Homo sapiens: one gene and its partners. The protein of the gene in region 1 purifies or fractionates together with the protein of each later gene. This does not show direct contact. Each region holds a gene or a part of one and is shown in the gene's direction. Other genes may lie near its edges.

What was found.
Region 2: the proteins of C1orf115 (region 1) and RIOK1 purify together in Homo sapiens (affinity purification with mass spectrometry; one large-scale study listed by BioGRID and IntAct). This does not show direct contact.
Region 3: the proteins of C1orf115 (region 1) and MKS1 purify together in Homo sapiens (affinity purification with mass spectrometry; one large-scale study listed by BioGRID and IntAct). This does not show direct contact.
Region 4: the proteins of C1orf115 (region 1) and NCS1 purify together in Homo sapiens (affinity purification with mass spectrometry; one large-scale study listed by BioGRID and IntAct). This does not show direct contact.
Region 5: the proteins of C1orf115 (region 1) and CLNS1A purify together in Homo sapiens (affinity purification with mass spectrometry; one large-scale study listed by BioGRID and IntAct). This does not show direct contact.

Annotation. Positions count from the first base shown.
Region 1 is NC_000001.11:220,693,356-220,696,522, forward strand, and holds part of C1orf115 (required for drug-induced death protein 1), read left to right. Parts: intron 1-3,167. UniProt on the Homo sapiens protein: Regulates drug efflux through modulation of ABCB1 localization and activity.
Region 2 is NC_000006.12:7,396,294-7,399,815, forward strand, and holds part of RIOK1 (serine/threonine-protein kinase RIO1), read left to right. Parts: intron 1-409; coding exon 410-479; intron 480-2,404; coding exon 2,405-2,447; intron 2,448-3,522. UniProt on the Homo sapiens protein: Involved in the final steps of cytoplasmic maturation of the 40S ribosomal subunit. Involved in processing of 18S-E pre-rRNA to the mature 18S rRNA. Required for the recycling of NOB1 and PNO1 from the late 40S precursor.
Region 3 is NC_000017.11:58,204,919-58,207,098, reverse strand, and holds the end of MKS1 (tectonic-like complex member MKS1), read left to right. Parts: coding exon 1-14; intron 15-551; coding exon 552-634; intron 635-718; coding exon 719-816; intron 817-928; coding exon 929-1,020; coding exon of another isoform or gene 1,021-1,109; 3' UTR 1,110-1,658; downstream 1,659-2,180. UniProt on the Homo sapiens protein: Component of the tectonic-like complex, a complex localized at the transition zone of primary cilia and acting as a barrier that prevents diffusion of transmembrane proteins between the cilia and plasma membranes.
Region 4 is NC_000009.12:130,178,891-130,182,412, forward strand, and holds part of NCS1 (neuronal calcium sensor 1), read left to right. Parts: intron 1-3,522. UniProt on the Homo sapiens protein: Neuronal calcium sensor, regulator of G protein-coupled receptor phosphorylation in a calcium dependent manner. Directly regulates GRK1 (RHOK), but not GRK2 to GRK5. Can substitute for calmodulin. Stimulates PI4KB kinase activity.
Region 5 is NC_000011.10:77,624,274-77,627,795, reverse strand, and holds part of CLNS1A (methylosome subunit pICln), read left to right. Parts: intron 1-1,977; coding exon 1,978-2,079; intron 2,080-2,725; coding exon 2,726-2,833; intron 2,834-3,522. UniProt on the Homo sapiens protein: Involved in both the assembly of spliceosomal snRNPs and the methylation of Sm proteins.

The DNA of each region.
Region 1 (3,167 bases):
CAAATACCAAAAATGTCACGTTTAATGCAGGCGATTGTCATTCTGATCTTGTTTATAATGGATCACTCTTGATTGTTAAGCTTGTTCCCAGAGAATATGTTTTTCTTTTGTTGTTTCAAACATGTAAGTAAAATTCCCCCAGTGATTCTTATCACACATTTAAAGAACTGTATCTCTTAGCAACATCACATACCCACACATGCGCATGCCCCAGCCCAGTGTCTCTTTGAGACATCAACAGGGTAATGTCCAGGAAAGCAGTGTCTAGAGAAGACACAGACATTACTTGGTTCTTGCAAAGCTCCTCATTTAGCGGGAGAGGTACCAAAGGAAACACTCAGCCTCTTTCTACATGCTCAGGATACAGTAATGAGCACAACAGAGTCCCTGCCCTCCTTCTGTTACTGTGAGGGACCCTGTAATTTAAACTATTGAAAGCTCAGCTGGGTGTGGTGGCTCACACATGTAATCCCAGCACTTTGGGAGGCTGAGGCGGGTGGATCACCTGAGGTCAGGAGCTGGAAACCAGACTGACGAACATGGTGAACCCTGTCTCTACTAAAAATACAAAAAGATTAGCCTGGCGCGGTGGTGCATGCCTATAATCCCAGCTACTTGGGAGGCTGCAGCAGGAGAATCGCTTGAACCTGGGAGGTGGAGGTTGCAGTGAGCTGAGATCGCGCCATTGCACTCCAGACTGGGCAACAAGAGCAAAACGCGGTCTCAAAAAAAAAAAAAAAAAAAAAAGCTCAAGTAAGCCAGAAGTCATAGGAAATTATAGTCTTAAGAAACTTTCCCAAACAGACAACAAAAATATTGGGTTTATCTATCACCACCACAAACCTAAATTGCTATGTAATCAAAAGAAGCAGATGTTATTTAGCAGTAATAATAGCTGACATTGGGGGGCACTTATACTGCCTGCAGTTTGTGCCAGGCCCTGTTCTCAGTGCTTTGCTTACATGATCTCATTTACTCCTCTTAACAACCCAATGAGGTGGTTACTAAATATTCCCATTGTATAGGTGAGGAAACCGAGGCCATGGGAAATTAAGTAAGTGATAGAGTTGGAATTCAAGCCCAGGGCATGAGTGGTTAACTAGAAGCTTACATATTGCCTTTATTTAAAAAGGGAAACATAGTATGGGGGTTAAGGTCATAGGCCCTGAAGTGAGATTTCTTTGGGATTGAACTTCAGCTCTGCCCCTAACCAGATATATACATGTGGACAGATGTAATCTCTCTGTGCTTTGAATGATTGAAGTCTGATAGACAAAGGCCACCAGGGACATGCCAGTAGCCAATCCACGTTAGGTTTATGTGCTTAGGGCTACAAGGGAGAGTGCATGCCAGAGGAATTGTGGGGTCTTCAAAAAGTGGAGATCTCAAGTAACGAATTGAATATTTGAGTCTGAACTAAAGAGTTCTTCAAATCTAGGAGATACTTGTAGTCATTAGAAATGGATGAGACCATCTAAGGAGAGACTGTAGGGAAAGAAAGAGAGAAGGAAAGACCCAGGACTGAGTATTGAACAACACCAACATTTTAAAGTCTGGTAGAAGGGATAATTTAGCAAAGAAAGCTGAGGAGGAGCTCCCTATTTAGGTAGGGGAGAACTAAGAATATGGAGTCAAAGACGCCACATGATTATTTCATAAAGTATGTCAAAAGCTGCTGAGAGGTCAGGGAGAGAAAGACAGAAAAGCGTCCACTGGGTCAGGCAGCATGGGGGTTGTAGATGGCCATGACCAGACAGTCCCTCATGGGTTGGGGTAGGAGCCGGAGTCAGAGGGAATAAGAAGCGCAGACATGGAGGCAGTATATGTGGTTGGCTCTTTTGGCTGGCTTGGCACGATGGAGGGCAGAGACTGGGGCAGGATATGGAGTCACGGTGATACCCGAGCATGTATGTAAGCTAATGGGATCCAATGGAGAGGAAGCGAATGATGGAGGTGGTGAAGGGAAAGCCAAGATCAAGGTGGGAGAAGGCACTGACACCAAGTATCAAGGGAATGGCTTGGGGGAAGAAGACCACTTTCTCCACCGTAACACAGGCAATGCGGGAGAAGCCAGGGGCAGCCACAGGCAGGGCTGTTGAGAGTGGTGGAAGGTGAACGTGTTCCCTGACGATGTCTGGGTTTTTTTTTTTTTTTTTTTTTTCTGTGAAAGGTGAAGTGGGATCATCTCATGAAGGTATGGAGACTTGGGTGTGTTCGTGTGTGTTGCAAGTGGGGAGGCTTAAGAAGGGAAAAGGTATGAGGCAGTACCCGGGGGAGAGAGAAATTCATCCTACTGGACAGATGTGGAGGTTTGTCAGGTGGTGTTGGAAGTCAAGGTGAGATATGTGATTGTGATCAGGAATTTTAAGTTAAACCAGTCTGAGTGGTTATGGTAATATGGAAAAGTCAAAGGACTGAGAGACAAGGTATGTGGCCTAAGGCACAGGTTATCTGCATGGACATTGATATCACCAAGAGTGATGACAGAAGTTGAGGTACGGAGGGGAAGACCATGGGCAGCCGTGCAATAAATGTTTGGTGGTGGTGGTGGTAATTTTTCTGTTGCAATCACATTTGAGTCCTTTAGATGTCCCCTGTCTAGCACCTGACATTCCCTGAATGTCCCCTACCCAGCCTTGTAGAAAAGGAAGAGGAGGAGTGGTTACCAAGAAAGCATTGCCCAAGCCTGACCATCAGGGAGCTTATAATGGTATTGGAAATGCTGGACTTACATAGATATAGCAATTAGAAAATGGCAGAAGACTACAAAAGGACAGATGTGTGGGTCAGACAGAAATATGCCATTGAGGTAGAAGGAGGAGAAGATGGGCTTTCAGATAAGGTGAAGGAAGGAAAACTTAACCCAGCCTTCTGACGGTCCAGTAATTTTTAGCTGGAACAGAGAAGAGGAGTGATCTTTGGTTTAAAAAACAAAATAAAACTGCTTTAGTTTTAGAATTAGCAGCCTTACTGCTGTTTCCAAGAAGGTCTTTGAATTATCTGGAAATAAGCTGTGCTTGAAAGCACTTTGCAAGGTGATGATGTCTGCTGTGAGCCGCTACATATTCTTAGGCTGGAGGTGGGCACCTTCCACCAGAGATGTGGGAATGTGGTAACTTGCTGATTTGTCACAAGAGAATCAGGAAAAATGATCTTTATATATGTCG
Region 2 (3,522 bases), on another chromosome or scaffold:
TAAGTATTTTAGGGCCTTCTTTGCCTATCATAGACTTATAACTTGAAGTGAAACAAGTTTTTAGAATTAAACTTGAAATTCAGGCAGTTTTATTAGTCATGTGGAGTACTAGCAAGTGTCTGAAATTTATTATGCAAATTATTATCTTTGAAGAATTTCTGCATCTAGAATTCTGTGGCTCAAATATTATAGCTGTAGTGATGAAAGTGACACTTACGAAGGAAACGCAGTTTAGTGCCTACTTTTAAAAACATTACATTGTTTTCATTACTAAACTGTATTCTATTTACAATAAAACATTTAGAAAGTGTAGAAGAGAAGGAAGAGGGGAGAAATACCCTGTTCAGCAACTCTGTTAATGTCTTTTCGTCTTACATATTGTTTACATTGTGGGTTTCTTGTATTTTAGATAAGCTAAATGTTACTGATTCCGTCATAAATAAAGTCACCGAAAAGTCTAGACAAAAGGAAGCAGATATGTAAGTAATATTTTAATAATATGCATGGGTGATAAGGACTAATCTAGATTAAGCAGCACCTTGATCATAATTCTTTTACAGAGGATGTTCATTTGTATACTTAAACCAATCATTATTTTGGTGTGTGTGTGTGTGTGTGTGTGTGTGTTTTCCTTAGCTTAAATTAGGATAACCTATGCCTTTGTGAATTAAAAATATTAATGAATCTTGGCTGGGTGTGGTGGCTCATGCCTGTAATCCCATCACTTCAGAAGGCCGAGCTGTGGGGATCACTTGAGGCCAGGAGTTTGAGACCAGCCTGGCCAACATGGTGAAACCATGTCTGTACAAAAAATACAAAAATTAGCCAGACATGGTGGTGCACGCCTGTAATCCCAGCTACTCAGGAGGCTGAGGTGTGAGAATCTCTTGAACCTGGGAGGTGGAGGTTGCAGTGAGCCAAGATCGTGCCACTGCACTCCAGCCTGGGCCACAGAGCGAGACTCCATCTCAAAAATAAATACATAAAATAAAAATTAATGAATTTTAAGAAATACATGGTAAAAGTGTAATCTCATGAAATTTACAAATGTGTTCTTATGAGGGGAACAGTGTTTGTAGATTTCAGTTTAAACTAAAATGTGCAAAAATGTTCCCTTAAAATTTATTAAGAATTATTCTTTCCCATGAAGTATTTTTAAAAATTTAAGGGAAGACTATGAACTAATGATATAACTGAGAACTGTTTCTGTTTACACTTCTGTTCTCAAAGCCAATTGTTTAAGATCTGAATAACTTCTCTTATATGCTAATAACTCTAAAGTATTATCACTATATTATAGAAAACGACACTAAGATCATACAACTAACTGTGAGAATTGAACGTAAAAGCCAGCTTTCTTCCAATTTATTGCTATGTCCAAGAGGTATCAGCTTTTTGAGATACACCATAGTTATTTGTTATTTCACTGGTATCTGTTTGAATCTTTGTGTTTAAACCTTTATTAGTTTAGGTTAGTGTGCTAGGTGGAGTCACTCAGTGTATAAGCAGAAGCAAATCAGAGTCTGCATTTGAATACTGTCTTGAAACGATTTTAAAAAACAAAACTGCCAGGTGCAGTGGCTCACGCCTGTAATCCCAGCACTTTGGGAGGCAGAGGCGGGCGGATCACAAGGTCAGGAGATCGAGACCATCTTGGCTAACAAGGTGAAATCCTGTCTCTACTAAAAATACAAAAAAATTAGCCGGGCTTGGCGGCGGGCGCCTGTAGTCCCAGCTACTCGGGAGGCTGAGGCAGGAGAATGGCGTGAACCCGGGAGGCAGAGCTTGCAGTGAGCCGAGATCGTGCCACTGCACTCCAGCCTGGGCGACAGAGCGAGACTCCATCTCAAAACAAACAAACAAAAACAAAAACAAAAAAACTTGTATCTTCTTAGAAAATGCCTCTAAACAGAAAGCCTTGTAAATGACTAACTCTATGTGGAGGCTGGGGCAGGAGGAATACTTGAGCCCAGGAGTCTATGCCTAGCCTGGGCAACATAGTAAGATGCTGTCTCTTTAAAAAAAAAAAAGAAGACAAGACTTTAATTGTGTGCTAACAGAATCATTAAAGATGTGAAGGACAGTACAAATATACTCAATGTTTTCTCTTTTTCAGCATAGTTCACTTTACCCTGGCGGCTCTTTGATGCTTCTGAAATAGGAATAGATTTTTCTTTTTACTGTATACATACTCCTTTTGCCAAAATACAGAATTGAATTTTGGTATTCAGGGGAAATGAAGAAAGTTTCACTGAGTAATGAAAAATCTACAATCATATCATAAAATCTGTTATTTAGAGAAACTACCTACTTAGGAATTTTCATGAAATTATCTACATTTAGAAGATTTTGGCTTCTCACTGAATTTTGAATGTGTCAACTATACGTTTTTGTTTTTGGTTAGGTATCGCATCAAAGATAAGGCAGACAGAGCAACTGTAGAACAGGTACAATTTAAATGTGTTGCAAACTCTTCTTTTTAATTAGCATTTCTTCTCTCTTTGAATTGTAGTTTGCTTTTATCCTTTTTGCTTAATGCTAATGTTACCTAAAATTACTCCTATATAAAATTATTCCTTTTTATAGTTTCGAGTTTAGAGACCTACATCTTGCTTTTATAGGACTATTGGATGAATTAGAGTCATGGTCCTTCAGTGGCCTTGCAGAGCCACCATGCGATGCTTTCCCTTCTTGGAGAGATTATCAGACCAGCAATCTTTTAGAAAAGGTCCGTAGGAATTTTGTGAGCTTTCCCAGAAGATAGGTAGGGTATCTGCCACAAAGCAGGAAGTGTGGGTGTAAAAGAGAGAGGGGCAGATAATGTCTTCAAATTTCCAGTTAGGAATCCTTTGTTTAGAAATTATGCTTGTTTTATTCTTTCTATTCAAGAATGGGGAAAAATTGGCCCCTAATTTTCCCACATTCCGAAGAATGTGATTGGATATTAGCCTTGGCCCAGATTTTTGATGTGAAGAAAGTGATAAAAAGAGTCAGAACATTTGCCTCTGCCACCTACCACTCCTTTCCACCACCCCCTCCCATATACACAAGCACATGTTCTGAATTCCACCATTAGACAGAAGCCGGGTCTGTGGTCTGTGTCTTCATTGTCCCCTAGTTTATTTTGTGATTTATTTCTGTAATTGAAAACAAAGTATGGTTCACCTCGGAAAAATGAGATAGCCTTAAGTTTCAAAGACCCTAAATAACTTTAGGGTTATTTTTGGCAGGAAATTCTTTTTCTCTTTCAAAATTAATTTTGAATGATAGAGTACATAGCTGGAGTCTTCAGCTGTCTATATAAAATATATGCTTGTGTGTAAATTTATCATTTCTCTTTCCCTGTTTTGTTCTTAAGCCATCTGGTTTGTTACTTCTTCCTATGCCCCTGACTTGTCTAACTGCCAACTTCGCAGAAGCACAGTTCTGTACCTAGAGGCCCATACTCAGCCAGCTGACTTCCCCTCTTTGCTTACCTGTGCAGTAGAGAAGAAATGGAAACTAGTGCCTTTTCATTCTTCT
Region 3 (2,180 bases), on another chromosome or scaffold:
CAGGATCCTTCAAGGTGACTTTTGTCTTTGGAGTGACTTCACGCTGAGAACTTATGGTCCTGTCCTTCTGTAGGAGGTGGGATCTGGGTCAAGACCCCTTAGTTGTGCATTGCTTCAGTATTAACCCCTTCCTTCCTGTGGCTTAAGCTGGAAGTCATGACCACATTTTGAATCAGGTTCCAATATCTACACTGCTATCGTAGGAGGTCTCTGGAAAATAGTATAATTAGAGATTTCCCCTGGTTCCCATCAGAATAACTGGCTCTTTCCCCCATCACTGAAGGCCTCAGTAATCAGATGTGGGGAGGATTCACAGTAAGCATATAAGACCGCCGCTTCTCAAATGAGGTTGGAATGTTCCCTGGTTTAGTTGGGGGAGCCCAATAGCCCAGTATTAGCCTTGAGGTAATAGAGTCTGGGTGATGGAATAAGGTTTCCCCAACAGAACTGCGCTTCCCAAGAATGGGAATAAGAATGGGGGTGAGGCCAGCATGGTGCGGGGGTGTCTAGAGAGAGCAGAAACCTGAGGCTGTCCCAATGGCATGCCACAGGGGGAACGCCTGAGCCGCTTTGGACTCCGCACAGAGACCACAGGCACTGTCACCTTCCGCTTGCACTGTCTGCAGCAGTCCAGGTGAGTGACTTGGCCCTCTGCCTCAGGGCACCTTAGCCCTGAGGGGTGGAGACAGCCGTAACCATGTGGCTGGCCTCCCTGCAGGGCCTTCATGGAATCGAGCTCCCTTCAGAAAAGGATGCGGAGTGTGTTGGACCGTCTGGAAGGGTTCAGCCAGCAGAGTTCCATTCACAATGTGCTAGGTATGTCCCCTCCCCCAGCTGGCCACCCCAGGTCAGCATGGGCCTGTTTCTCTCTGCAGTGCAGAGAGAAATACCATATGGCAGCCAAATAGCATATCTCCTTTCCTTACAGAGGCCTTCCGTCGAGCCCGGCGCCGCATGCAGGAGGCCCGGGAAAGCCTCCCGCAGGACCTAGTGAGCCCCTCTGGAACCCTGGTCTCCTAGCTCACAGCAGCCCTGGCCCACAGTGCAAGAGGACAAGATGGGGGATATCTGAGGCCAGTGCTCTCCTGCCTCTTCGTCTTTCTGATTAGAGACCACGTTGGTCTGCTGAGAACCAGAAAAGCTGGGAAATTCCCGGCTGGCCCCTCTGCCTAGCCTTCTGCAGGGTCTTCTCCCTACCCTGTGGAAATAAAGCCAGAGACCCTGTGGCCCCCCCTTTATATTTGCAGCCACTGTCAATGGGCATCACAGCAAGGCAGGCTTTTTGATCTGAAGCTGTTTGGGGTGACCCCATAGTGAGTCTGGCCTTGACTCACTTTTCTGGCTTGTCTCACAGTAGCAGGGGATCTGCTGTTCTCCACCCTTTAAAAATGGAGCCTTTCATCTTCCAAGACCAAAGAAGGAAGGAAGGTGGACGGTGAGAGGGTCTTAAATCCCCAGCCTGTGAGTCTCAGCCTCTTTCCAGGGAAGCCTCATTCTACTGCTTGGGGCTTGCTGAGGTTGAGATATGAGTTATTTCTGAGTAAGTGAAGGCTGAAGGCAGTGCTGAGTCCTTTCTGCTAGCTGGGTGGTATCTTTTACTGTGTTTTTTTGTTTGTTTGTTTTTTTGTTTTTTGTTACATAAACCCCTTTTATTTTGACTGATGTTCTGTTGGCTGTTTGTCTGCTCAGGTTGCTGGTATGGCTAGGGTGTTCTTAATGTCGGGGCCCCTACCATGTCTGCCCTTCCCCTTTTCTGCCTTTCCCTACTCCACAGTGTTTCTTTGGGCTCTCCTAATTCAGCCCCCAGGAGAGGCTTAGATGGTTGTGCCAGCTTGCGTGTTAACAGCACTTCTCTTAAACATCTGGAGCAAAGCATGGAACTGAGGCCACGTCTTCCCTAGCCCAACACAGAAACAGCAGCCCCTGCCCTTAGCAGTGCTTTATTGGTAGAAGCAGAGCATGCTGCCTGGCCTCAGGCTCAGAGGAGTATTGTGGGGTGTCTGGAGGCTAGGACCGAGTGGTCTCTTAGTCATGGTGAGGGAGGGGAGGGAGGGCTGGGAAACAGTAGAAAGTGCTGTAAACCCTCCAGCTGACTTTTCTTGCCTGGGGTGCAAGACCACATGGCTTGGCTCCCAAGCCTTTGCACGTGGCGCTGATTCATAGCCTAATACCTAAGAGGC
Region 4 (3,522 bases), on another chromosome or scaffold:
CTCCCCTGCCCTCCCCTCCCCTTCCCTCCCCTTCCCTCCCCTTCCCTCCTCTTTTTTTTTTTGAAACAGAGTCTTACTCTGTCACCCAGGCTGGAGTACGGTGGCACGATCTTGGCTTACTGCAATCTCCACCTCCCGGGTTCAAGCAAATCTCCTGTCTCAGCCTCCCGAGTAGGGGATTACAGGCATCCGCCACCACTCCCAGCTAATTTTTGTATTTTTAGTAGAGACGGGGTTTCACCATATTGGTCAGGCTGGTCTCGAACTCCTGACCTCAGGTGATTCACTCACCTTGGCCTCCCAAAGTGCTGGGATTACAGGCATGAGCCGCTGTCCCTGGACTCATAGTTTTCATTACCTTGTAAATTTGGGATTATCTACTTTTTATTTTCTGACTTAAAAAAACCTGACCATTCTGAATGTTTGCCCGTATCATGAACTATGCTTTTAGAGCATGATTTTTTTTCATGGTGCATCATATGGACAGAACATATTTTATTTAATCTCCTGTCATTGGACAGTTAGCTTCCTCCTCCCATATTGAAAATACTGAGATGAACATCTTTGTACCACATCTTTGCATGAATGTCTTTGCACTAAATCTTTGCACTTATCTTTTCTTGAAGATAAGAACCCAGAACGGGGTTATGGAGTTAAAAGGCTGGGGATGTTTTGAAAGGCTTTTGATTAAAAATTGTTGAATTGCTCTCCAGAAAGGCTGTTCCAGTTTACATTTTCAGCAAAAGTAGATGAGAGAGTGCCTATTTCTCTGCATTCTTGCCAGCACTGGGTATTACTGTTTTCCTTACTTCTTGCCAATTTTATGGGGAGGAAAAGAGGTGGCTCACTGTGTCAACATTTATTTCTTTGAATACTATGAAATAGAATCCTAGTATCTTTCAGCTGGAGGAGACTCTTGGGGCCAAGTAGTTCAATGCCCTCATTTTACAAGTAGGCAAATTAAGCGCCAGAAAGGTGAAGCATCTTCCCCAAGGTCACACAGCAAATATGTGGCAGGAACTGCTTTGTTCCTGTCAGGGCACCTCCCACTGTGCCAAGGTGAGTTGGCTGTTGGGGTTCAGATAGGGATGTCTTGCCTTCTTTTTATCTATCTATCTATCTATCTATCTATCTATCTATCTATCTATCTATCTATCTATCGAGATGGAATCTCACTTCCGTCACCCAGGCTAGAGTGCAGTGGCGCGATCTCGGCTCACTATAATCGCCACCTCCCGGGTTCAAGCTGTTCTCCTGCCTCAGCCTCCTGAGTAGCTCGTATTAGAATGTGCACCACCACACCTGGCTAATTTTTGTATTTTTAGTGGAGATGGGGTCTTGCCATTTTGGCCAGGTTGGTCTCAAACTCCTAGCCTCAAGTGGTGCACCCACCTTGGCCTCCCAAAGTGCTGGGATTACAGGCGTGAGCCACCACGCCTGGCCTAGGGATGTCTTGACTTCTTCACTGAGGTCTTCTGCTGGGGTTCATCTTGCCCCAGATATCTCTAGCACTCTGGTAAGAAAAAAAGCCAATATAAATTAAAAAGCACATCATCATTATGGTCATAACAAGATGAATCAATTTTCACATTCTGTGTGTGATCTATTTTGCAGGGCAGAGAGTGTCAGAGATTACGTTGCGGCGTTTCTAGGTAACTTGAGATTGGGGTCATATTCTGACCAAGGGCAGAACGGCAGGTGCTGAGGACTTGAAGGTCAGTTCTGCTGTTTCCTGGCTGGGCAATCCTGGCCAGCTCCTTACGTCTCTGAGCTCTGAGGTCCCTTGCGCATGAGACAGGGATGTTTGCACAGGGATCTGCACGTAGTAGGTGCTCAGTAAATGCTCTCCCAGGAAGGAGGCTGCTGGACCGGCTGTATCAGGGACAGCCGTTCTTGGCCACTCCCCTGGGCAATCACAGAGTGAGCTGTCACAGGCTCTTGGCTGAATTGGGAGCGAGTGGCAAACATGGAGGGCCTCTGTGGTGGCCCGGCTGGGTTGGTGGCCGGATTGTTCTGTGTCTGGCTCCTGGCTTGGTGAGTTGGGGAGGGAGAAGGGTTGTGGCAGGCTGGCTTTTAGGCTCCTGTGCGCCCAGGGGCTCAGAGGATGGACAGCAGCCTGCCTGGGATTAAGTCCCAGGACCATCATGGCCTGGACAGTGGCTTTGGAGTCACTAGTTCCCTCTGGGACTCAGTTTCCCTTTCTGTACCATGTTCAAATTCCCAGATAGTGAGACCCAGTGGGGAAGGTACGTCAGGGCCCCAGGGACGGAGTGTGCTTGGGCTGTGGTGTTCAAGACCCAGGCCCTTGGATCTTCTCAGCCTCAGGCATGGTTCTTAGCCTCTCGATACCTTAGTTTTCTTATCTGGGGGTTGGGGATAAGGGACTTCTACTACACAGAGCCGTGTGCGGGGTTAGGAATAACAGACGTTGAACTTGGCGGCTCATCTCGGCCCTCCTTTTGCTCCTGGTGGTGGTGGAGGATCTGCGAGCTGCAGCACGGGACGGTCAGGGGCTGTCACTGCGGTGAGAATCTGGTATTAGGCATGTTCCGTGTGACCCAGGCCTGTCCTTGGTGTTCACGTGTGTTCCTCACCAATTCCACCCAGGAGCCCTGTGGGGGTCCCCTTTTTACAGATGAGGAAATGGAGGCTCAGAGTGGATGAGAGCTGGCTCATGGTCCCACGGCTGGAGAGTGGTGCCATTGGGGTCTGATCCCCGTCCCCTCTCAGCCTGGAGTCTGCACACTGAAGCCCTGGGCCGCGGTGAGGGGCCCCTGCTTGGTGGAGGTGCCAGGGAGCCGCCATGGAGGTGTGCAGGTGAGCGTGAGCGGGCCCGGGTGCCTGGTGTGGGTGTTGCAGGCAGGGCGGGTGCTGCGGGGCACGTGGGCAAGTCCCGATTCACGTGGGCACGCTCCGAGCGTGAGTGACGGGGTCATGGCGTGTGTCAGGAGTGGGTGAGCCGGGCACTCCTGTGCGCACGCGTGTGGTGGTGTGTGAGGGCAGCTCTGTACAGGTTGTAAATGTAGGTGTGCCTGGGGGTGGGGGACGCTGGGGAGGGAGGCACAGACAGGCCGGGAGCCGCGCCAAAGGCTGGGAGCTCAGCTGCCAGGTCTGGAACCAGGTGATAAGCTGCCACTCCCCAAGGCAGTAGGGGAGTATTGTGGTTGGGGGGAGATGACAGCAATGACGACCACCGTTTACCCAGTGGGCACTCGGGACCAGGAGTGCTGAGTGCTGCCCTCTCCCCAAAGCCCTGGGAGTAGGGACCCTTATACCCATTTTACAGATGAGGAAAGGGAGGCCCAGGCAAGTTCAGGGACACGCCCAAGTCCCCCCAGCCAGCCAATCGATGGCCAGTCGGGGTTCAGGCTTAGATCTTTATGTTGCCAGAGCCACGCCCTTCCCACCCGGCGCCTGCCTCCCACCGTCTCTGTGAGCCTCAAAACCTTGGAGTTCCCTGCCAAGGGGAGGGAGCGCCCAGTCCCTGGGAGCATCCAAGCCGCTGCTGGAGCATCAGACACT
Region 5 (3,522 bases), on another chromosome or scaffold:
TTTGCATTTCTCTGAGCCTGAATTTCATCCAAAAAGTTAAGGGAGTATATTAGTCTCTTGTTCCCAAACTCAAGACTAATGGATACACATTAGAAATACATGGGAAGCTTGTTTAAAATGCAAATGCTCTGAGTCCTAAACTAGGAAAAAGCAGTTCAGTAGGTTTTAGGGTGTGTGTTTTAAATATGTGCTCTATAATCATACAGAATCTATATGATTGGTTGTAATTGATGTGATTATGATTAATCCTTTCTTAGTAAGATATGCAGGATTTCCTATCTTACTAGAAATTAGTATCTTTCTGGGTCACATTTATTTCACTAATTCTCCAGTTCCTTTTTTTTTTTTCTTTTTTTTTGAGATGGAGTCTTGCTCTGTCGCCAGGCTGGAGTGCAGTGATGCGATCTTGACTCACTGCAACCTCTGCCTCCTGGGTTCAAGCGATTCTTCTGCCTCAGCCTCCCGAGTAGCTGGGACTACAGGCTCCCGCCACCACGCCCCGCTAATTTTTTTTTTTTTGTATTTTAGTAGAGTTGGGGTTTCACTGTGTTGGCCAGGATGCTCTCCATCTCCTGACCTCATGATCCACCCACCTCAGCCTCCCAAAGGGCTGGGATTACAGGCGTTAGCCACCTCGCTTGGCCCTTTAGTTCTTTTTATCTTAAACTCCTCTCATAAATTACATGTGCTTGAATCATATTTTCCCAGCCTTTGTTCCTTGCATTCTGATTCTCTAAGCTCTAAGTTTTTTTTTTTTCTCTTTGGCATACCTCTGTAAGTCTCTTTAAAAATGACCATCAGGGCTGGGCGCGGTGGCTCACACCTGTAATCCCAGCACTTTGGGAGGCTGAGGCGGGCGGATCACGAGGTCAGGAGATCAAGACCATTCTGGCTAACACGGTGAAACCCCGTCTTTACTAAAAAAAATACAAAAAAATTAGCCAGGTGTGGTGGCGGGCGCCTGTAGTCCCAGCTACTCAGGAGGCTGAGGCAGGAGAATGGGGTGAACCCAAGAGGCAGAGCTTGCAGTGAGCCGAGATGGCACCACTGCAGTCCAGCCTGGGCGACAGAGCAAGACTCCGTCTCAAAAAAAAAAAAATGACCATCAGGACCGGGCATAGTGGCTCACATCTGTAACCCCAGCATTTTTTTTTTTTGTGATGGAGTCTCACCCTGTCACCTAGGCTGGAGTGCGATGCTGTGATCTTGGCTCACTGCAACCTCCACCTCCCAGGTTCAAATGATTCTCCTGCCTCAACCTCCTGAGTAGCTGGGATTATAGGCGCCTGCCACCACGCCTTGCTAATTTTTGTATTTTTAGTAGAGACGGGGTTTCACCATATTGGCCAGGCTGGACTCAAACTCCTGACCTCGTGATCCGCCCACCTCGGCCTCCCAAAGTGCTGGGATTACAGGCGTGAGCCACCGTGCCCAGCCACAATCCCAGCATTTTGAATGGCCAAGACAGGAGGATCACTTGAGCCCAGGAGTTTCAGACCAGCCTGGGCAACATCGTAAGACCCCATCTCAAAAAAACAAAAATTAGCAGGGTGTGGTGGCAAGTGCCTGTAGTCCCAGCTGCTTAGTAGGCTGAGGTGGGAGGATCGCTTGGGCCTGAGAGGGCAAGGGTGTCCAGTCTGGGCAACAAAACAAGTCCCAGTCTCAGAAAAAAAAGTTGACCCTTAGCTCATTGTTGATGAGATTAGATTACCTTAAAAATAACCTTAAAAATTCATTCCCGGTGAGGCGCGGAGGGAGCACTTTGGGAGGCCAAGGTGCGTGGATCTCGAGGTCAGGAGATCGAGGCAAGGCTTTTCTAGGATGCTCACTGTATAATCAGAATTTTTCAACCATAATTGGAAATAAATTTGTCAACCATAATTGGAAATTAAAATTGAATTGCAATATTCAGATTTTCAATATGCTTCATTTTTTTAAAGTCAAATAATGACATTAAAAGGGTATTTTATTTTCTAGAAGAATCAAAAGAACCTGTTGCTGATGAAGAAGAGGAAGACAGTGATGATGATGTTGAACCTATTACTGAATTTAGATTTGTGCCTAGTGATAAATCAGCGTGTGAGTGTTCTACAGTATTGATTCTTCCCCTTTTACATACCAAGCATTCCCAATTGACACACACACACATACACACACACACACACCTCTCACCTTTACCACCATTACCTCCATTCTATTGCTTTTTCTTTATTTTAGCATTGGTAATATCATTAAGGACCAAATACCTATTAATATCAAAGGTTGTGAATGTAGTGAGAATATTGTAGACACTCTGTCATCTGGGTATATTTTGTGAGTGGACTCTGGTTAGTTTTACTGATTGGTGCTGTTGACTTAATCTCACCTGCTGGATGGCAGAGGAGTTATGGCAGTTTTAAAGTGGAAGATCTCAGGATGGCTGGAAAGAGCCCTATCAGCTGAGAGCAGTCTTCACCCTTCACCCTGATGCCAGCAGTCTTACCAGGACTCTGACCCTTTTTTCTTGGAAAATCCCACGAGCCATGAAGAGATTGCAATGATCTCTCATAATGAACTCTTATTATTTTATGACTTGTCTTTTGCTTCAACCGCTTTCAAGATTGATCTTACAATTTGGCAGATTTTGTAAATACTGTGGCGTTTTGTGTACCCATTAAATTTATTTGCACTGATGGTTACTTTTATTACAAAAAAAGATTGGTTACAGTTTAATTTCCTTGTTCAGTGGAGGCAATGTTCACTGCAATGTGCGAATGCCAGGCCTTGCATCCAGATCCTGAGGATGAGGATTCAGATGACTACGATGGAGAAGAATATGATGTGGAAGCACATGGTTAGTGAAATGGATTTTAAAGTGGGTTTTTTGTTTGTTTAGTGTTTCATTTTAAGCATTTATTTGTATTAAGGGTAGAGGATTATAGTTCTTTATATGACTGTAAAGTATGCAGTATGGTAAAATTATTATTATTATTTTTGAGATGGAGTTTTCGCTTTTGTTGCCCAGGCTGGAGTGCAATGGCGTGGTCTCGGCTCACTGCAACCTCTGCCTCCTAGGTTCAAGCGATTCTCCTGCCTCAGCCTTCCAAGTAGCTGGGATTACAGGCATGCGCCACCACGCCAGGCTAATTTTGTATTTTTAGTAGAGATGGGGTTTCTCCATGTTGGTCAGGCTGGTCTTGAACTCCCGACCTCAGGTGATCCGCCTGCCTCGGCCTCCCAAAGTGCTGGGATTACAGGTGTGAGCCACTGTGCCTGGCTGGTAAGATTATTATTAAAATAGAATGACACGGTAGAACACTTTATGCCAAAGCCCTTTGCAACAGACAAATTTTTGAGTGTAAGAAATAGAGATTGTTATGGGGAAGAATGGGTAAGTAGAGCATATGGGAGGAAAGAAAATGGTAGATAGGGAAGTGGATGGTCAGGAAAGTCTTTTAAGCTGAGGCAGCTGCCCCCAGAGAACAAGCTTCTCTCTCTACACCTTGAGAACCTGGATCATTTATATTGTTTTATTATTACTAT